Linked DNA regions of Homo sapiens. The protein of the gene in region 4 purifies or fractionates together with the protein of the main gene of each other region. This does not show direct contact. Each region holds a gene or a part of one and is shown on either strand. Other genes may lie near its edges. The genes, in order: SIRT5, SF3A3, DBT and RBM5.

Region 1 (5,461 bases), on a different chromosome or scaffold from region 4:
AATGGCGATCATTAAAAAGTCAGGAAACAACAGGTGCTGGACAGGATGTGGAGAAATAGGAACACTTTTACACTGTTGGTGGGAGTGTAAATTAGTTCAACCATTGTGGAAGAGAGTGTGGCAATTCCCCAAGGATCTAGAACTAGAAATACCATTTCACCCAGCCATCCCATTACCGGGTATATACCCAAAGGATTATAAATCATGCTACTATAAAGACACATGCATACGTATGTTTATTGCGGCACTATTCACAGTAGCAAAGACTTGGAACCAACCTAAATGTCCATCAGTGATAGACTGGACTAAGAAAATGTGGCAAATATACACCATGGAATACTATGCAGACATAAAAAAGGATGAGTTCATGTCCTTTGCAGGGACATGGATGATGCTGGAAACCATCATTCTCAGAAAACTATCGCAAGGACAGAAAACCAAACACCACACGTTCTCACTCATAAGTGGGAGTTGAACAATGAGAACACATGGGTACAGGGCGGGTAACATCACACACTGGGGCCTGTCGGGGGGTGGTGGGCTTGGGGAGGGATAGCATCAGGAGAAATACCTAATGTAAATGATGAGTTGATGGGTGCAGCAAACCAACATGGCACATGTATACCTATGTAACAAACCTGCACGTTGTGCACATGTACCCTAGAACTTAAATTATAATAAAAAATAAATAAATAAATAATTTAAAAAATAAAAAAGTAAAAGAAATAACAAAAGACGGTCACAACACGCCATTCTCGTCAGGTTGCAACCAACCCAACTACCCCACCAATCACACTAAAGCTCTACCTGAACTCACATCCCTTCCAGAGATAGGCTGCTTGTTTTTGTCAGGTTTGTCAAAGATCAGATGGTTGTAGATGTGTAGTGTTATTTCTGAGGCCTCTGTTCTGTTCCACCGTGACCGTCTTAATTTCTCTCAGCCTTGTGCTGCCAAAACATGAATGGAGCCAGAGAGGAAAAAGCCTACTCTTCTTCTGAGTTCACTATAGACTAAGGGCCCAGACAGGTTAATTTGTAGGTTTTTGCCAGGTAGAGCTGCAAAGTATTTCTGTCCAGGAGAAAATTTAACCTCATACTGCCCTATAGGACAATCACCAGTTTTCCTCCCCTGCAGAGAGATAAGGATTTTATAGTACAAAACATGTGTAAAAAGCTTAAATGCAAATATTCTGGCAGAAGCAACAAAATGTCCTAGATGGACTTGAGTATTAAGGAGATAGGCTCTGAAGGTGCCCTAGAAGGGATTACCTAAAAGAGAAGAGGACAGGTGGGCGCGGTGGCTCATGCCTGTAATCCCAGCACTTTGGGAGGCTGAGGCAGGCAAATTACGAGATCAAGAGATCGAGACCATCCTGGCCAACATGGCGAAACCCCATCTCTATTAAAAATACAAAAATTAGCTGGTTGTGGTGGCATGTGCCTGCAGTCCCAGCTCCTCGGGAGGCTGAGGCAAGAGAACTGCTTGAACCCAGGAGGCGGAGGTTGCGGTGAGCCGAGGTCGCACCACCGCACTCCAGCCTGGCGACAGAGCAAGACTCCGTCTCAAAAAAAAAAAGAGAAGATGACAGAGTGGCTTTCTCCAAAACCTTGCCCAATACCTAATTTGACAGAGACATTCCTCTCGAAGTGTAGGACTTTCAGGTACTTCACATTTGGCTGCAGGTGAGGCAATGGGTAAAATGACTTACTTGAACTTGGCCGAGCCATTTTCAGGCAAATCTGGTTTCGTGTGGACGCTGGAGGCTTCAGGCCACAATATAGCTGGGAAATCAATCGACTTGGGACAATCTGGAGAGGTCGCATCAGGGTTTGTCTGTAGTTCTAATGCTTGAGGCGGGCTTTAGAAAAATCACAAAAACAAATAGTGTAGAAACAATCAGCAAATATTTTTATATATGGAAATATGTATAAATATTTATATTTTATATATTACAGAAACGCATCATGTATATTATATTATACCCACACGCACACATACACGAATGTCCTTTAAAAAATCTTTAGTAACAGATCATCCTCTGAACTGGCTGTTTTCCGTTTGTGTTCTCAAGTGCTCCTAGAGGTGCAGAGGTGCCTTGGAGCAGTGCTTCTCAAAGCGTGTTCCCTAGACCAGCAGCGTCGCCATCACCTGAAATCTTGTTAGAAATGCAGCCTCTGGTTCCACCTCAGAGCTGCTGAATCAGAAACTCTGGGGGTGGACCCCATCATCTATTTCCAGGTGATTCTAGTAACTACTCAAGTTTGAGGACCACTAAAATGCACAAGAAAGGGTTAAATATGAGAATTCATTTGAAAACTTGCTGCTTTTCAAAAGGTATGAAGCCAGGTGCAGTGGCTCACGCCTATAATCCCACCACTTTGGGAGGCCGAGATGGGTGGATCACCTGAGGTCAGGAGTTTGAGACCAGCCTGACCAACATGGTGAAACCCTGTCTCTACTAAATACAAAAAATTAGCTGGGAGTGGTGGTGCATGCCTGTAATCCCAGCTACTCAGGAAACTGAGGCAGGAGAACTACTTGAACCCCGGAGGCAGAGGTTGCAGTGAGCCGAGATTGTACCATTGCACTCCAGCGTGGGCAACAAGAGGAAAACTCCATCTCAAAAAAAAAAAAAAAAAAAAAAGAACAAAGAAGAAAAAAAAGAAGGTATGAAAACCACCACTAGTCTCTCAACTTGCGGTCAAAGTACAGTTTCTTTCTTTTATTTCAGACAGGGTCTCACTCTGTCACCCAGGCTGGAGTGCAGTGGCGTGATCACGGCCCACTACAGCCTTGACTTCCTGGGCTCCAGCGATCCTCCCACCCCATCCTCCCCAGTAGCTGGGACTACAGGCACGCGCCACCATGCCCGGCTAATTTTTGTATTTTTGGTAGAGACAGGGTTTCACCATGTTGGCCAGGCTGGTCTTGATCTCCTGAGCTCAAGCCATCCACCCACCTAGGCCTCCCGAAGTGCTGGGATTACAAGCATGAGCCACCATGCCCAGCCCAAAGTAGTTTCTGTGAGAATGTAATTTCTAACTGAGAACTAAATTCTGAAGGAAAGAAGTGTACTGTGACAATAGTATTAAGATAACATCGTGTCACAGAAACTCGTGGATCTTAAGGCACATTCAGTAAATCTTTGTCTATACCTGAGGAATTTTATAAAAAGAAAACAAACACAGAGAAAGACAACATTTGGAACAATGACACTGATTGTCCAACAAAACTGTGGGGGCAGAAAATATAACGGTGGTTGCCAGAAAGGGGAGGAGTGATTAAAAAGGGGCATGCGGGAATTTTTTTTTTTTTTTTTTTTGGTGGGAGGCAATGGTATTGTTATATATCTCGATTGTGGTAGTAGTTACATGACTGTATCTGTCAAAACTCATAAAACTCAATACTAACAAAGGGTTAATTTTATTAGACACATATTTTACTTAAAAATAATGAGTATAGAGCTTCAGTTTTACAAGATGAAATGAGTTCAGGGGATTAGCTACACAACAATGCGAATAGACTGAACTGTACCCTTAATAATGGTTAGAATGCTAAATTTTGTTACATGTGTTTTACCACAATTGTATTTTGTAAGAGAAAGGCAAGGGGATAAAAGAATATACCTTAACTTTCTTGCATTTGCTATAAAAACAAAAAAAGAATTCACAAGAAATTAGTAAAAAGAATTGAGTATAGGGTGGGAAACGCTATGTAAGGAGATTAGAGCTGAGCAAGGATTTTCCATATGTGTTTATATATTGTTTGGATTATCAATGCCTTCCAGTCCAAGGAACACACTTGTACTCGAGCAAGTTGCGAGAGATAGAACACGCCATGAAGAACTGCAGCATCTGTTAGGAACCTGGAATGGACTGATTAGAGGATTTGTGCTTGTGTTAGATCATGTTGGGGAGAGGTTCATGGAAGTGGGGCTTTGTTCTGGATTTGATGCTGTTAATGGATCTTATCTAAAAGGTGGAAGGAATGAAGAGAGGCTAGAGCTGTGAGTGGCCAAGCAGGAGTCCCTCATGTTAGCGGCATGGGAGGATGTTTGGTCATCTTTGTGGCTTCAACAATGTTCCTGTTTCGGTCCCAGTTCAGACGTGATTACTGAGTGGCCTTGTTCTTGTCCTGACCCATTGTGGTCACAGAGTGGCCCTGTCTGATATCGGTGCTCTGTGACGTGGTTTATGTTCAATAGAACACCAAGGCCTATCAGATAGTGCCAGGCTCAAGACTAGAAGCAAACCAAATGTCCATCAATTTATAAATGGGTAAACAAATTGTGGTTTATCCATACCATGAAGACTCTTCAGCAATAAGAACAAACTACTAATACCTTCAACAGCATGAATGAATCTTTAAAAGTGTTATCCAATAATAACTCTATAGTAGAAAAGCTGGCAGCTACCACCTTAACCAAGTGATCAAAGTTAACATCACCAGTAATAAGACATGGCGACTCCACCTACCTCCTCATATGATGCAATGAGAAGGGCAAAGCATCACTTGTGTGGCATTCATGACTGCAATTTAGTTATGAGAAAATGCCAAACTCAAGCTGAGGGGCGTTCTACACACTCTACAGCAAAACTGGCCAATACTCTTCAGAAAAGTATCAAAGTTTTGAAAGATAAGAACTGGAGAAACTGTCCCAGGTCCTAATGAGACATGACAAGTAAATGCTACGTGGGATCCTGGGCTGGATTCAAGACCTGAAAAGGGACATTAGTAGGACAAATGGCAAAATTTGAATGAAGCCTGTAAATTAGTTACTAGTACTGTATATGTAAATGTCTAGGTGTAGTACTTGTCCTGGTTTAGATCATTGCACTCTAGTTAGGTAAGATGTGAACATTAGAGGAAATTGGGTAAATGGTATAATGAGAACTCTGTGTACTATTTTTGCAACATTTCTGTAAGCCTAAAATTATTTCAAAATAAAATTGCTTCACAACAAGAAAAAAAAGGGCCAGCCATGGTGGCACACACCTGTAATCCCAGGACTTTGGGAGGCTGAGGCAGGAGGATCACTTGAGCCCAGGAGTTCGAGACCAGCCTGGGCAACAAAGTGAGACCCCATCTCTACAAAAAAGTAGCTGGGCATGGCAGTGCATGCCTATGGTCCCAGCTACTCAGGAGGCTGAGGTAGGAGGATCACTTGAGCCCAGAAGGTTGAGGCTGCAGTGAGTCATGATTGTGCCACTGGACTCCCTGCCTGGGTGAGTGAGACCCTGTCAAAGAAAGGAGAGAAGGCCAGAGCAGGAGCGAGAGTGAGGGAGAAAGAGAGAAAGAGAAAAAGAGAGGAAGAAACAGAGGGAGGGAGAGGGAAAGAGAGACAGAGAAGCATTATGCTAAGTGAAAGAAGCCAGATACAAAAGGCTACATAGTTTTTGAGACCATTTATAAGACATTTTAAAAAGGCAAAACTGTTGGTACAGAAATCACACCAGTGGT
Region 2 (5,461 bases), on a different chromosome or scaffold from region 4:
TGACTGACAAAAGGGTGGTATTTCAAAGCAGCACTGCATTGTTTGCCTCACTGGGTTGGCTTGTAAACCTAGATTCTAGACCCAGTAGTCTTATACATAAAACCTCTGGGTCAAGATCACAGAAAAACATCACAACTCTCACTACATCTCCCATATTGCAGGAGAACTTACCAAAGCCCCAGCAACTCCAAACACCTGCATGAATAGGGGTTACTAATGGCAGGTCAGCATCATCTTTGTAGGTAAAGGAGAAGACTTTTATTAGGCACAATGATGTGGTGAGGAGAGAGCAGGGAGATTATACACTGACATGATGGCAGTTTTAACTAAGGGATGGTAAATGGCATGGGCTTTATCCTGGATGCCAACTCCAATCATTGTAGGAGGTGCTGAGAAGGATTCAGAACTCACTCATGGGCTCAGCAAAAAAGACCCATTATCAATTAGTAATATGTATGACTCAGAGAGGGGGAGAGGAGTTCATATAAATTTGTCATCCTTGGTCTAGCATAAATGTTTTCCTTTCTGTAAAATTTCCTTCCAAAATCTAAGAACTCTAAGTAGAGCCCACTTAGAGGTGAGCCCACTTACAGCAGTATCATCCGGACAATACCCTGTCTCAAGAATGGCTTGATAAATATCAGCCCCTTCATTTTTTATTTTCTCAAGAGGCAAAGATCCATTTAAGATCTGAAAGAGATCAGTCAGCCCTATTTTTTATCTTGAGTATTAGCAATGGGGTAGAGAAATAACCAAGAAGTCAGAAATTGGTCTAAAATGCTAGCAGAAAGACAAAAACAGAGAAGTTTAAGAGCAGGCAAGAGAAAACCAAATAAGGTTCAAAGAGTGGTGCGGTAGAATTCCTCCAGAAACTATCTCAGGTATTTAAGACTAACATTGGTGCCAAAAGTCAAATGCCATGGGCTTGATTTTAAAACCATCCTTCTCTGATTCCCTTCAGCTCTGGACACCAGTGGTCCACATAGGCTGCTCCTACTCTTTTCTCTAAAAGTCTCATGTTTTTACTTCAATTCCCAGGAAAAATGGCTCTGAATTCCTTACAGCAAAGTGTCGCTGGAAGGCTTTGGGCCCTCGGTAGGTGTAGTTTCCACAAATCTCACAGTTGTAGTTGATATTTAGGCCATGAAGCTTATACAGCCAGTAGGGAATAGGCTAAAAAAGAAAAAAACAAAACAAAACCAAGAAGTGTTAGCCTACTAAACTCTGTATCTGTTTCCAAAATGGGGAATGGGGAGAAAGTGGTAGTGCTGAGACTTACTTTGCCATCCCAGCCAAGTGGCAGGTTTTTGGGGTTGTAAATGATCTCGTTCTCTTCATCTTCACTCTCACTCTCACTGATCTGCTCTTCTTCCTCTTCTTCTCGCTCTTCTCCTGTCCTGGCTTGCTTGCGCTGTACATTTTCATGAGTGAGATGTCGCTGTTCCTAAAGCAGGTCCATAAATGAAAAGTCAGAAAAAAGTAGTGCAGAATAAGAAGGGAAATTTCCTGTTTTCCTGTAACTTTTGCTGACCCCTTACTTCCAAGGATAAGGTTCTTTCTTACAGAATAAAGGAAAATCTTGCCTTCATATCAGAACTCCTTATCAGCAGGCTCTACCTGATCCCAAAGAAAAGAGTCAAAGGTTTTACATCACTTGCCTAATTACTCATCTGAGGCTATTATAGAACAACAGAAAACAGTCTCATCTATTCTGACTCTAAAATATTTCCTGGCTGGGTGTGGTGGCTCACGCCTGTAATCCCATCACTTTTGGAGGCTGGGGTGGGAGAATCACTTGAGGCCAGGAGTTTGACATCAGCCTGGGCAACACAATGGGATCTCATCTCTACAAAACATTTACAAATTGGCTAGGCATGGAGGTGTGCACCTGTGATCCCAGCTCTTTAGGAGGCTGAGTTAGGAGGACTGCTTGAGCCCAGGAGTTTGAGGATGCAGTGAGCTCTGATCCCGCCACTGCACTCCAGCCTGGGCGACAGAGTGAGACTCCTTCTCAAAAAAAAAAAAAAAAAATATGCACACAATACAGGAGCACCCAGATTCATAAAGCAAGTCCTCAGAGACCTACAAAGAGACTTAGACTCCCACACAATAATAATGGGAAACTTTAACACCCCACTGTCAACATTAGACAGATCAACGAGACAAAGTTAACAAGGATATCCAGGAATTGAACTCAGCTCTGCACCAAGCGGACCTAATAGACATCTACAGAACTCTCCACCCCAAATCAACAGAATATACATTCTTCTCAGCACCACATCACACTTATTCCAAAATTGACCACATAGTTGGAAGTAAAGCACTCCTCAGCAAATGTAAAAGAACAGAAATTATAACAAACTGTCTCTCAGACGACAGTGCAGTCAAACTAGAACTCAGGATTAAGAAACTCACTCAAAACCGCTCAACTACATGGAAACTGAACAACCTGCTCCTGAATGACTACTGGATAAATAACGAAATGAAGGCAGAAATAAAGTGTTCTTGGAAACCAATGAGCACAAAGACACAACATACCAGAATCTCTGGGACGCATTTAAAGCAGCGTGTAAAGGGAAATTTATAGCACTAAATGTCCACAAAAGAAAGCAGGAAAGATCTAAAACTGACACCCTAACATCACAATTAAAAGAACTAGAGAAGCAAGAGCAAACACATTCAAAAGCTAGCAGAAGGCAAGAAATAATTAAGATCAGAGGAGAAGTGAAGGAGACAGACACACAAAAAAACCCTTCAAAAAAAATCAATGAATCCAGGAGCTGGTTTTTTGAAAAGATCAACAAAATTGATAAGACCGCTAGCAAGACTAATAAAGAAGAGAGAAGAATCAAACAGACGCAATAAAAAACGAAAAAGGAGATATCAACACCGATCCCACAGAAATACAAACTACCATCAGAGAATACTATAAACACCTCTACACAAACAAACTAGAAAATCTAGAAGAAATGGATAAATTCCTGGACACATACACCCTCCCAAGACTAAACCAGGAAGAAGTTGAATCCCTGAATAGACCAATAACAGGTTCTGAAACTGAGGCAATAATTAATAGCCTACCAACCAAAAAAAAGTCCAGGACCAGACGGATTCACAGCCGAGTTCTACCAGAGGTACAAAAAGAGCTGGTACCATTCCTTCTGAAACTATTCTAATCAATAGGAAAAGAGGGAATCCTCCCTAACTCATTTTATGAGGCCAACATCATCCTGATACCAAAGCCTGGCAGAGACCACAACAAAAAAAAGAGAATTTTAGACAATATCCCTGATGAACATCGATCCAAAAATCCTCAATAAAATACTGGCAAACTGAATCCAGCAGCACATCAAAAACTTATCCACCATGATCAAGTTGGCTTCATCCCTGTGATGCAAGGCTGGTTCAACATACGCAAATCAATAAACGTAATCCATCATATAAACAGAACCAAAGACAAAAACCACATGATTATCTCAATAGATGCAGAAAAGGCCTTTGACAAAATTCAACAGCCCTTCATGCTAAAAACTCTCAATAAACTAGGTATTAATAGGATGTTTCTCAAAATAATAAGAGCCATTTATGACAAACCCACAGCCAATATCATACTGAATGGGCAAAAACTGGAAGCATTCCCTTTGAAAACTGGCACAAGACAGGGATGCCCTTTCTCACCACTCCAATTCAACATAGTGTTGGAAGTTCCGGCCAGGGCAATCAGGCAGGAGAAAGAAATAAAGGGTATTCAATTAGGAAAAAAGGAAGTCAAATTGTCCCTGTTTGCAGATGACATGATTGTACATTTAGAAAACTCCATTGTCTCAGCCCAAAATCTCCTTAAGCTGATAAGCAACTTCAGCAAAGTCTCAGGATACAAAATCATGTGCAAAAATCACAAGCATTCTTATACACCAATAACAGATAAACGGAGAGCCAAATCATGAGTGAACTCCCCTTCACAATTCCTTCAAAGAGAATAAAATACCTAGGAATCCAGCTTACAAGGGATGTGAAGGACCTCTTCAAGGAGAACTACAAACCACTGCTCAACGAAATGAAAGAGGACACAAAGAAATGGAAGAACATTCCATGCTCATGGATAGGAAGAATCAATATTGTGAAAATGGCCATACTGCCCAAGGTAATTTATAGACTCAATGCCATCCCCATCAAGCTACCAATGACTTCACAAGCTTACCAATTTCTTCACAGAATTGGAAAAAACTACTTGAAAGTTCACATGGAACCAAAAAAGAGCCTGCCTTGCCAAGACAATCCTAAGCCAAAAGAACAAAGCTGGAGGCATCACGCTATCTGACTTCAAACTATACTACAAGGCTACAGTAACCAAAACAGCATGGTACTGGTATCAAAACAGAGATATAGACCAATGGAACAGAACGGAGTCCTTGGAAATAGTATGACACATCTACAACCATCTGATCTTTGACAAACCTGACAAAAACAAGAAATGGGGAAAGGATTCCCTATTTAATAAATGGTGCTGGGAAAACTGGCTAGACATATGTAGAAAGCTGAAACTGGATTCCTTCCTTACACCCTATACAAAAATTAATTCAAGATGGATTAAAGACTTAAATGTGGGCCGGGTGCGGTGGCTCACGCCTGTAATCCCAGCACTTTGGGAGGCCAAGGTGGGTGGATCACCTGAGGTCGGGAGTTCGAGATCAGCCTGGCTAACATGGTGAAACCCTGTCTCACTAAATACACAAAATTAACTGGGCATGGTGGCACATGCTTGTAGTCCCAGCTACTCGGGAGGCTGAGGCAGGAGAATCGCTTGGAACCAGGAGGTGGAGGTTGCAGTGAGCTGGGATCATGCCACTACACTCCAGCCTGGGCGACAGAGTGAGACTCTGTCTCCAACAAAAAAAAGAAAAAGAAAAAGAAAAAAAGACTTAAATGTTAAACCTAAAACCATAAAAACCCTAGAAGAAAACCTAGGCAATACCATTCAGGCCATAGGCATGGGCGAGGACTTCATGACTAAAACACCAAAAGCAATGGCAAAAAAAAGCCAAAACTGACAAATCGGATGTAATTACACTAAAGAGCTTCTGCACAGCAAAAGAAACTACCATCAGAGTGAACAGGCAACCTACAGAATGGGAGAAAATGTTTACAATTTACCCATCTGACAAAGGGCTAATATCCAGAATCTACAAAGAACTACAAAGAATCTACAAAGAGAAATGCAAATCAAAACCACAATGAGATACCATCTCACACCAGTTAGAATGGCGATGATTAAAAAGTCAGGAAACAACAGGTGCTGGAGAGGATGTGGAGAAACAGGAACGCTTTTACACTGTTGGTGGGACTGTAAACTAGTTCAACCATTGTGGAAGACAGTGTGGCGATTCCTCAAGGATCTAGAACTAGAAATACCATTTGACCCAGCCATCCCATTACTGGGCATATATCCAAAGGATTGTAA
Region 3 (5,461 bases), on a different chromosome or scaffold from region 4:
GGACAATAAAGGAAAGTTTTGAAGTATATAGATTCACCTTAATTTAAATAAAATTGTTCATATTTGTAAAACATTTGAAAGAAAATTAAACTACTAGAAGGTCTTACCTTCAACAACAACACAACTCGTATTGAACTATTCATGGGTCGGGGCAGCATAAACCACCACGCTTAACATTTATTGAGTGCCTCCCATGTGCTGAGTACTTTCTTTTCAGACAGGCCAGGCATGGTGGCTCTGGCCTGTAATCCCATCACTTTGGGAGGCTGAGGTGAGTGGATTGCTTGAGGTCAAGAGTTTGAGACCAGCCTGGTCAACATGACGAGACCCCCTCTCTACTAAAAATACAAAAATCAGCTGGACATGGTGGCACACGTAGTCCCAGCTACTTGGGAGGCTGAGGCACAAGAATCACTTGAACCTGGGAGGCGGAGGTTGCAATGAGCCAAGATCACACCACTGCACTTCAGCCTAGGTGACAGAGAGACCTTGTCTCCAAAAAAAAAAAAAAAAGAAAGAAAAAAAGAAAAATAGCCTTTTTAGACATCATCTTTTTTTCTTTTTTTTTTGAGATGGAGTTTCACTCTGTCACCCAGGCTGGAGTGCAGTGGCACGATCTCAGCTTACTGCAACCTCCGCCTCCCAGGTTCATGCGATTCTCGTGCCTCAGCCTCCCAAGTAGCTGGGACTACAGGCATGTGCCATCATGTCCAGCTAAACTTTTTTTGTGTGTATTTTAGTAGAGACGGGGTTTCATTATGTTGCCCAGGGTGCTCTCGACCTCCTCAGCTCAGGCAATCCGCCCACCTTGGCCTCTCAAAGTACTAGGATTACAGGCCATGAGCCATGGTGCCCGGCCCAGACATCATCTTTACATTTACAATTTCCCTGTGGAACATACACGTTAGCCCTCTTCAACACACGGGAAACTGATGGGAAAGGTGAAGTAATTTGTCCAAGGTCACACAGCAAATAAGTGGAACAATCGAGCTCTGAAGCTAAATAAATTTGATGTCAAAGACCCTAGAAATAGGAGAAATAATCCCTAATTTCAAAGAGTTTACAACGTATGTGAGAAAATAAACACACATACAAACACACTCAAGCATGGACATGCATGCTCTAACTTTTTGTAATAAGAGGCATAGGCTTCTTTAATATAGTCCATAGGTTTACGAAAAAAAAAAAAAAGAGACATAGGCAGTACGTGATAAAGGAGTTTAAGCAGGCCGGGCACAGTGGTTCATAGCTGTAATCTCATTGCACTCCAGCCTAGGCAACAAGAGCAAAATTCTATCTCAAAAAAAAAAAAAAAAAAAAAGGAGTTTAAGTAGAGGGGTCTGGTGGGCTTTTTTTTCACGTTAGTGTGACCTGGGAAGGCTTCTTGGAGGAAGATTTAAGCTGCACTGTGCATAATAAGCATACATAATAAAAGAGCAGAAGGGCACTTTTAAGGCAGAGGAAACAGCATAAATAAACTACAGCAGAAATTGACTTAGCATATCTGCTGGGACATTGAGCGGCTTGATTTGGCTTGACCAAAGGTATAAAAGAGAGCAATGGAAACAGCTCAAGGAGGAAATGGTTGATGACTATAATGTCAGTATAAGGAGTTTGAACTCATACATTATGGGTTATTGAAGAAAAAGGATTAGGAAATTAGTAGTGGTTTATTGAATAGATTATAACAGATAAAATCTGGAGAGAAAGGGAGAAGTCAAGAAACTATTACATACCAAAATTATCAAAAAAGGATTTTTTTAAAAAAATAACTATTACCGTATTCCTCTCTTATCTCCTTATGTGCAGTGGACACGTTCAAGATCCCCCGGTGGGTGCCTAAAACCATGGACAGTACTGAATCCTACATATTCTACATATACCGTGTTTTTCCTATATATACATACCTATGATAAAGTTTAATTTATAAATCAGACACAGTAAGACAGTAATAATAATAACTGATAATAAAATAGAAAAATTATAATAATATACTGTAATAAAGGTTTTGTGAATGTGGTCTCTCTCTCAAAATATCTTACTGTACTGTGCTCACCTATTTTCAGACTACAGTAGATCATGGCTAACTGAGACCACAGATAAGAAGGGGAGAGTACTGTATAGTATTTGAGACACAAAGCAACAGGCTCCTGACTGAGGTAATTAATAGTAGAAAAAGAAAAAAAGCAACAAAAGTACCATAGGCAGTATATGATTAATATAATAGTAATTGAATGGCTCTGAGGAGAAGGCTAAAAACACTGTGAAGTTGCTGAATAGATGGATTAACAGGCAACAGGAAAGAGGAGAAGAAATAATTTTTCAAGCTAGAATTCTAAATTTTTTTTCTAGAAACAGACTATTAGACTAGTAAATTATATTTTTTAATTTTCTTCAAAGACAGGGTTGGCTGGGTGCAGTGGCTCACACCTGTAATCCCATCTCAAATAATAATAATAATAATAAAATAAAGACAGGGTCTCACTTTTTTGCCCAGGATGGTCTTAAACTCCTGGGCTGAAGCAATCCTCCTGTCTCAGTCTCCCAGAATGCTAGGATTACAGGTGTGAGCCACCACACCCAGCTAGACTAGTAAATTAAGCATAAGGCTTTAAACCTCCAATTTTAAAAAGGCATGCTTATGGAATTATCAGTTTTATATATTTTATATTTGAAGCAATTCTAAATTCATCTATGAACAATACTAAAGACACCTAGTTCTATGGGGACCATCTGTACCAATTTGCCTGAGGTGACACCCAATTCACCTCTAGTGATTCAAGGCAATTATTAATAACACCATTTTCATTCTCAAATACATCCTGGTTGAACAACTATACGTGTAGTCTAAGTCTTAATGCAATTATTTGACTAAAATAGGTCTTTCCTTGATTTTAAAAATAATTCAGCCAGGTGCAGTGACTCATGCCTGTAATCCCAACATTTTGGGAGTCCAAAGCAGAAGGATCACTGGAGCCCAGGAGTTCAAGACCATACTGGGCAATGCATTGAGACTTTGTCTACTAAAAATCAAAATAATTAGTTGGCTGTGGTGGTGAATGCCTGTAGTCCCAGCTACTTGGGAGGCTGAGGAAGGAGGACCACTTGAGCCCAGGAGGTCAAGACTGCAGTGAGCCAAGATCATGCCACCACACTCCAGCCTGGGCAACAGAGCAAGAACTTGTCTCAAAAATAATAATAAATAAAATAAAAAATTAGGCCAGGTGCAGTGGCTCATGCCTGTAATCCCAGCACTTTGGGAGACTGAGGCAGGTGGATCACGAGGTCAAGAGATCAAGACCATCCTGGCCAACACAGCGAAACCCCGTCTCTATTAAAAATACAAAAATTAGCTGGGCATGGTGGCGCGTGCCTGCCCAGTTACTTGGGAGGCTGAGGCAGGAGAATCGCTTGAACCCGGGAGGCGGAGGTTGCAGTGAGCTGAGATTGCACCACTGCACTCCAGCCTGGTGACAGAGTGAGACGCCGTCTCAAAAAAAATAAAAATAAAAAATTAATAATTCAATATCACAACCAGGACAGAAGAACATAAAGGGAAATGAAACTGTTCACCAAAGTAGCGTATTAAGGAAATATTTAATAATAATTCAATAGGCAGCTGTTGAGCACTCCTAAAGTCAGACATTGTACTGGACTTGGAAATGCAAAGCTAAATAAGATGCAATATATAGTTCCTGAATTCAAATTGCTTACACTTTACTACAGGAAGACAGACACAACAGAAAAATTCCAAATGGCATGATTAATCAAGAGTCAAATGCATTATGTCCTAGGGAAATGTAAAACACAACATTATAAGGCTATTTTAATAATTTACTACGGGGGTAAGAACTGTTTTTGCTTACAACTTTTTAGAAGAGTTTACAAACCTGACTTTTTTTTTTACTGAGTCATTTAAAAAATATTTATGCACACCTACAATGTGCCAGGCACTTGGGATTATACAGAGAACAAAACAGATGCAATTTCTTCCCTTATAGAATGCACAGTACAGTGAAAGGTAAAGACAAGTAAACCGGTGATTATAACACGTGCTATAATGAAGGAAATAGAGTGTGTTAAGGGAACCTAGCTGGAGAAAGTTATGTTGAAGTAAGACCTGACGGATGAGTAGGTGTAACCCCGGGGATGAGGTATGTTGCAGATAAGGCCACAGTGGAGTAAGGCAAGAGTCTTTAAAGCAGAGGAAATACATGTGCAAAGGTCTGGAGTTGAGACAGAAAGCACAGTGTGTGTGCAAATAACTCAAGTTGTTCAACAGACTTCTAGTGTAGTTTAGTGTGGAATAAGGGTGGGGAAGTGTCAGAGTTGGGGTTGGGATGGGTAGGTTTTGGTAAGGAATGAGATCTAAGAGACTGGAAAGGTCCAGATCATAAATTGCCTCATAGTCATTTGAATTTTGGACATTTTGCTGAAGGCAGTTTTAAACAAGAAAATGATATTATCAAATGTCTCTTACTTTATAAGATCACTCTGGCTACACTATGGAGAATGGGTTGGAAAAACTACAAGACCACTGGAGGCATATAATCCAGTTAAGAAGGGCCAAGACACCTCCAGTTGAGGGCAGGGTGGAAAAATCATGACTAGATTTCTTCAGAGAGAATTACAGGCTCAAATCAAGAGAAACTGGGCCAGGGGCAGTGGCTTACGCCTGTAATCCCAGCACTTTGGGAGGCCAAGGCAGGAGGATCACCTGAGGTCAGGAATTCAAGACCAGCCTGGCCAACATGGCAAAACCCCGTCTCTACTAAAAATACAAAAATTAGCCAGGCATGGTGGTTCGCGCCTGTAGTGCCAGCTACTTGGGAGGCTGAGGCAGGAAAATCACTTGAACCCAGGAGGTGGAGGTTGCAGTAAGCCGAGATTGCACCACTGCACTCCAGCCTGGGCAACAGATCAAGACTCTTCTCAAAAAAAAAAAAAAAAAAAATTAAGAGAAACTGGTTTGAGGGTTCAGTTCTAGAGGCTGGAGAGTCTGACCTGCTTTGAAGCTTTACGGCAGACACTGTGAGAAGACTAAAGACAAGCTTTTCTGCTGGGCATGGTGGCTCATCCTGTAATCCCAGCACTTTGGGAGGCCAAGGCAGGCGGATCACTTGAGGTCAGGAGTTTGAGACCAGCCTGGCCATCATGGTGAAACCTCGTCTCTACTAAAAATACAAAAATTAGCTGGGCATGGTGGCGTGTGCCTGTAGTCCCAGATATTTGGGAGGCTGAGGCAAAAGAATCGCTTGAAACTGGGAGGCAGGGGTTGCAGTGAGCCAAGATCGCACCACTGTACTCCAGCCTGGGTGACAGAGAGAGACTCCATTTCAAAAAAAAAAAAAAAAAAGACAAGTTTTTCTAAGCTCCCTTGTGCTAGCCGGGGCCATGTAACACAGTTCTGGCCAGTGAGACTGGAACCTCCTCCTCTTCCACCTTCCTGCCTTCAACATAA
Region 4 (5,461 bases):
CTGTAATCCCAGCTACTCCGTCTCAAAAAAAAAAAAAAATTGACCTCAGTTGGAAATTTCTGTTCTCCTACCCTTTTGTAAGGAGCAGCAGCAGCTTCGGGTTGTCCCTTAAAAGACAGGATTTTTAGAATCTTCTCCATGTCAGGGTAGAAAATACACTAGGAATGTCACAAATGGATTTGTATGTACTTGACCCTATCTTGGAAAACTTTGGTACATTGGTGGTGGGAATGCATGTGTATGTCATTTGTCTCATTTACCCCTAGCGATCATTCTTCGGAACATAGCTCCGCACACTGTGGTGGATTCCATCATGACAGCACTGTCTCCTTACGCGTCTTTAGCTGTCAATAACATCCGCCTCATAAAAGACAAACAGACCCAGCAGAACAGAGGCTTCGCATTTGTGCAGCTGTCCTCTGCAATGGTGAGGTTCTCATCGATTCTTTCCTTTTTAAAAGAAACAGCTTTAAGAGGCAAATGTGGTTCATCCAGTTTTGAAACTGTCTGAGGCTCCTAAAGCCCAAGATGCAAGGCTCCCTAATGACAGTTTTTGCACTGCTAAATTACAGGACTGATGACTTCAGTAAGTAGTAAAAATAATGTGTATACCTATAGGCAACTGGCAGAATTTTTTGAGCCACAGTTTAGTCCTTGGTACTTTGTTTTTTGTTGTTGTTGTTCTTTTTTGGGATGGAGTCTCACTGTCGCCCAGGCTGGAGTGCGGTGGCACCATCTCGGATCACTGCAACCTCTGCCTCCAGGGTTCAAGCGATTCTCCTGCCTCAGCCTCCTGAGTAGCTGGGATTACAGGTGCCCGCCACCACGCCCAGCTATTTTTTTTTTTTTTTTTTTTTTTTTTTTTTTTTTGAGAGGGAGTCTCGTTCTGTCGCCCAGGCTGGATGGAGTGCAGTGGTGTGATCTCGGCTCACTGCAAGCTCCATCTCCCCAGGGTTCACGCCATTCTCCCGCCTCAGCCTCCTGAGTATCTGGGATTACAGGCGCTCACCACCATGCTCAGCTAATTTTTTGTATTTTTAGTAGAGATGGGGTTTCACTGTGTTAGCCAGGATGGTCTTGATCACCACCTCTGCCTCCCAAAGTGCTGGGATTACAGGCGTGAGCCACCGCGCCCAGCCACGCCCAGCTAATTTTTGTATTTTTAGTAGAGACAGGTTTTTGCCATGTTGGCCAGGCTGGTCTCGAACTCTTGACTTCAAGTGATCCGCTCATCTCAGCCTCCCAAGTGCTAGATGTACTTTGTTTTAGATTGGTTTAGCATTTGCTCTTTTGGTAATACTGGAAACCTTCACATCTTAGAGGAAAGAGAGATATTCCTTTCTTGAGGTTTCATATCTGCAAACACAATAAGGAATTAATTGCCTTTTATTTTTTAATAGAAAACTACTTCTTTGAATGGGGTGGATGGTAGGGAGAGATTTTTAATTGCATTACACGTTTTTTTCCTTCACATTCTCCTTCAGGATGCTTCTCAGCTGCTTCAGATATTACAGAGTCTCCATCCTCCTTTGAAAATTGATGGCAAAACTATTGGGGTTGATTTTGCAAAAAGTGCCAGAAAGTGAGTGGCTTCATTGTCCTTATTTCAAACTACTGCATATGCACATTTGTACAGTGTGCTAACTGAACGCCAAGCCTGTGCCCCAAGTATGTTGAGACACTGTGATCCTCCCTGATTGCCAAGGCCAGGAGGGACACGTTTGTCTTCTTTTAGTGATTATTCCCTACTGTCCTGTGTAACCAGTTGATGAAGTTGCCTGAAATGGTTTCAGATCAGGAGAAAGGCAAGTATGGCAGATGGGTTGAGAACACATGCTTTGCAAACTGCAGCAGTATAGTGCTAACCCATCCAGAAATAACCCATTCCTTCCAGAACAGCGTGCTAATAATTTCATGTATATAGTGCTTAACTCTAACACGGTAAATTTCCCTTTTTTTAGTATCATTGCACATTCAAAAAACTCTTCGTTAGATGGCAGGTTACAAGGTAGAACAATGATACTACAGGGCCACTTGCTTACTGAGGAATTTCCCCATGAAGAGCCCTCCCCCTGTGAAATGTGGCCTTGCTGGCATTTGAGAACTGACAAAGGGTGGAGTGAATCAGTTGGTGGTATAGGGGCACTAATTGTGGGAATACTGTGATAGAATCACATGATTGGATCTTTGTGGTTTCAGAGACTTGGTCCTCTCAGATGGTAACCGCGTCAGCGCTTTCTCTGTAGCTAGTACGGCTATTGCTGCTGCTCAGTGGTCATCCACCCAGGTAAGATCGAGGATCTTTTTGCTCAAGGTAGTGTGGTGGTGGTGCCCAGATTCACAGACGTGACCTCTCCTGTGGTACTCGCAGTATGAGCTCTTTTCTTTTCTTTTTTTTTTTTTTTTTTTTTTTTTTTTTTTGAGACAGAGTATCACTCTCGTCACCCGGGCTGGAGTGCAATGGTGCAATCTTGGCTCACTGCAAGCTCCACCTTCCAGGTTCAAGTGGTTCTTCTGTCTCAGCCTCTTGAGTAGCTGGGATTACAGGTACCTGCCACCACGCCTGGCTAATTTTTGTATTTTAGTAGAGATGGGATTTCACCACGTTGGCCAGGCTGGTCTTGAACTCCTGACCTCAGGTGATCCACCCACGTCAGCCTCCCAAAGTGCTGGGATTACAGCCGTGAGCCACAGCGCCCAGCATCATGAGCTCATTTTTAGGGACTTCTGAATTTTTTTCCTTAATGCCTACTAAGTTTGTCTTTGTCTCATTTTGATGTTTTGTAGTCTCAAAGTGGTGAAGGAGGCAGTGTTGACTACAGTTATCTGCAACCAGGTCAAGATGGCTATGCCCAATATGCTCAGGTAGGTAGATTTTAGCAGCATCCACCTTATAGTCTTGCAGAGTGTGTCTGAGAATAGCAGCTTTAATGGTGGACTTTTCTTCAGTATTCACAGGATTATCAGCAGTTTTATCAACAACAAGCTGGAGGATTGGAATCTGATGCATCATCTGCATCAGGTAGTAAACTTCATCTCCCTTTTACCTTTTGTTTAAGCACTTACAGTTGAAGAAATATGATTAAATGTCCTAACTGGACCAAAAGCTACAAGTCCATTTCTCTGTAAGATTGTAGGGGGCATGGCCGGGCACGGTGGCTCACGCCTGTAATCCCAGCACTTTGGGAGGCCAAGGCAGGTGGATCACGAGGTCAGGAGTTCAAGACCAGCCTGGCCAACATGGTGAAACCCCATCTCAGCTAAAACTACAGAAATTAGCCAGGTGCGGTGGCAGGCGCCTGTAATCCCAGCTACTCAGGAGGCTGAGGCAGGAGAATTGCTTGAACCCGAGCGGCAGAGATTGCAGTGAGCTGAGATTGCGCCACTGCACTCCAGCCTGGGCGACAGAGTGAGATTCTGTCTCAGAAAGAAAAAAAAAAGAATGTAGGGGGCATATTCAGGGCTGTCATCATGTACCCAAGGTTCTGGGGAAGAATACGGTTATTTGTGTACACCAGGAGTTAATACAAGGTCTTAGAGACCATGTTGTGATGAGTTTAATTCTTGGAATTCAACTCTGTATTTCCCCTCTCTGTGTTTGGAGTCGTGAGTGCCCACGTAAGTTCAGGTGAGCAGAGAGGATGTGGCCCTGGAGACTGGTGCTCAGACATCAATCAGAAGAGCTACTCTAAGAAGCCTTGGCTTTAATTTTTGTTTCAGGCTTTAAAAAGCCTTGTGAGTTAAATCTTTCTCAACCCCAGAGCAAATATAGATCCTTTCTTCTCTTCCTTTTCTCTTCTTTTTTTTTTGAGACGGAGTCTCGCTCTGTTGCCCAGGCTGGAGTGCGGTGGCGTTATCTCGGTTCACTGTGAGCTCTGCCTCCCAGGTTCACGCCATTCTCCTGCCTTAGCCTCACAAGTAGCTGGAACTACAGGTGCCTGCCACCACTCCCGGCTAATTTTTTGTATTTTTAGTAGAGACGGGGTTTCACCGTGTTAGCCAGGATGGTCTCAATCTCCTGACCTCGTGATCGGCTCGCCTTTTCCTTCCAAAGTGCTGGGATTACAGGCCTGAGCCACTGCACCCGGCCTCTTCTCTTTTTCTTAGCCATGATACAGAATCCTTAACTTTGTATATCACATCTAGTAGAATTATAAGAAAATGAAAATGTCACAGATTCCAGGGTACTTAGTGGAAGTTAGCTTATGAAGAACTGACATATACAATGACAGAAGAAGGCTAGATTGGGCATTACAAATAAAGATGTTTGGGTTGGCGTTCAGTGCCTTGGCTTTCCCTAACACTTGTGTTTATCATCAGGCACAGCAGTGACCACCACCTCAGCGGCTGTAGTGTCCCAGAGTCCTCAGCTGTATAATCAAACCTCCAATCCACCTGGCTCTCCGGTAATCCTGTTGTCCTATATACAAAACTCGTGGCTGATGGGGAAATTTTGTTTTGCTATACAAGTATTACCCTTTCCTGTTGTATGAGCCAGGATTGAGTAATACACACTTCAACCTTATTTCTTTCTGTTGTTTTAAAATATTAATTTTATGATATATATGTGCATGTATATTTTAAATATAAAATTTCAACTGTGTATTTACACTTTATGCATGCTTGACCTTTAGAAAGTTGTCGCCGGGGCCGGGTGTGGTGGCTCGCGCCTGTAATCCCAGCACTTTGGGAGGCCGAGGCGGGTGGATCACGAGGTTAGGAGATCAAGACCATCCTGGCTAACACGGTGAAACCCCGTCTCTACTAAAAATACAAAAATTAGCCGGGCGTGGTGGCACATGCCTGTAATCCCAGCTACTCGGGAGGCTGAGGCAGGAGAATTGCTTGAACCCCGGAGACGGAGGTTGCAGTGAGCCAAGATTGCGCCACTGCAGTCCAGTTTGGGCAACAGAGCAAGACTCCTCTTGAAAAAGAAAGCAAAAAAGTTGTCAACATGTGTTTTGCTGAGGGATTGCCTTAGATTATTGCTACAGTGTGTCTGTCAGGGGAGCCCTTCCTCCTGGATGATTGCAGTGATTTAGCTCTCTTAAAAGGCTTTACAGTTGAAATTATATTGAAGCTGCTGTTCTTTCCAGACTGAGGAAGCACAGCCTAGCACTAGCACAAGTACACAGGCCCCAGCCGCTTCCCCTACTGGTGTAGTTCCTGGTACCAAATATGGTAAGCCAAACCTCATGGGGCTGTTGACAGTTGGAAGGTCTTAGTTGTTGTCTTTGTTTAATGAGAGTTCTTCTCCCTTTGCGGGTGTCAGAGGGACACTTGGGGATGTGAGACAGAGAAGAAACATTAGGCCTGCTGCATCTCACTGGCTTAGAATTTGAAATAAAGCCAATTTCTTACCTGGAATGACTGTATGCTGGATTTTGTTTTTGCAGCAGTACCTGACACGTCCACTTACCAGTATGATGAATCTTCAGGATATTACTATGATCCGACAACA

What was found.
Region 1: the proteins of RBM5 (region 4) and SIRT5 purify together in Homo sapiens (affinity purification with mass spectrometry; one large-scale study listed by BioGRID and IntAct). This does not show direct contact.
Region 2: the proteins of RBM5 (region 4) and SF3A3 purify together in Homo sapiens (affinity purification with mass spectrometry; one large-scale study listed by BioGRID and IntAct). This does not show direct contact.
Region 3: the proteins of RBM5 (region 4) and DBT purify together in Homo sapiens (affinity purification with mass spectrometry; one large-scale study listed by BioGRID and IntAct). This does not show direct contact.

The regions. Positions count from the first base shown.
Region 1 is NC_000006.12:13,580,474-13,585,934, reverse strand, and holds part of SIRT5 (NAD-dependent protein deacylase sirtuin-5, mitochondrial), read right to left. Parts: intron 1,860-5,461; 5' UTR 1,825-1,859; coding exon 1,710-1,824; intron 949-1,709; exon of another isoform or gene 808-948; intron 1-807. UniProt on the Homo sapiens protein: NAD-dependent lysine demalonylase, desuccinylase and deglutarylase that specifically removes malonyl, succinyl and glutaryl groups on target proteins.
Region 2 is NC_000001.11:37,968,292-37,973,752, forward strand, and holds part of SF3A3 (splicing factor 3A subunit 3), read right to left. Parts: intron 1,445-5,461; coding exon 1,280-1,444; intron 1,174-1,279; coding exon 1,063-1,173; intron 1-1,062. UniProt on the Homo sapiens protein: Component of the 17S U2 SnRNP complex of the spliceosome, a large ribonucleoprotein complex that removes introns from transcribed pre-mRNAs.
Region 3 is NC_000001.11:100,242,764-100,248,224, forward strand, and holds part of DBT (lipoamide acyltransferase component of branched-chain alpha-keto acid dehydrogenase complex, mitochondrial isoform 1 precursor), read right to left. Parts: intron 1,840-5,461; exon of another isoform or gene 1,780-1,839; intron 1-1,779. UniProt on the Homo sapiens protein: The branched-chain alpha-keto dehydrogenase complex catalyzes the overall conversion of alpha-keto acids to acyl-CoA and CO(2).
Region 4 is NC_000003.12:50,105,283-50,110,743, forward strand, and holds part of RBM5 (RNA-binding protein 5), read left to right. Parts: intron 1-266; coding exon 267-427; intron 428-1,484; coding exon 1,485-1,582; intron 1,583-2,199; coding exon 2,200-2,287; intron 2,288-2,787; coding exon 2,788-2,865; intron 2,866-2,949; coding exon 2,950-3,022; intron 3,023-4,320; coding exon 4,321-4,406; intron 4,407-5,096; coding exon 5,097-5,181; intron 5,182-5,396; coding exon 5,397-5,461. UniProt on the Homo sapiens protein: Component of the spliceosome A complex. Binds to ssRNA containing the consensus sequence 5'-AGGUAA-3'. Regulates alternative splicing of a number of mRNAs.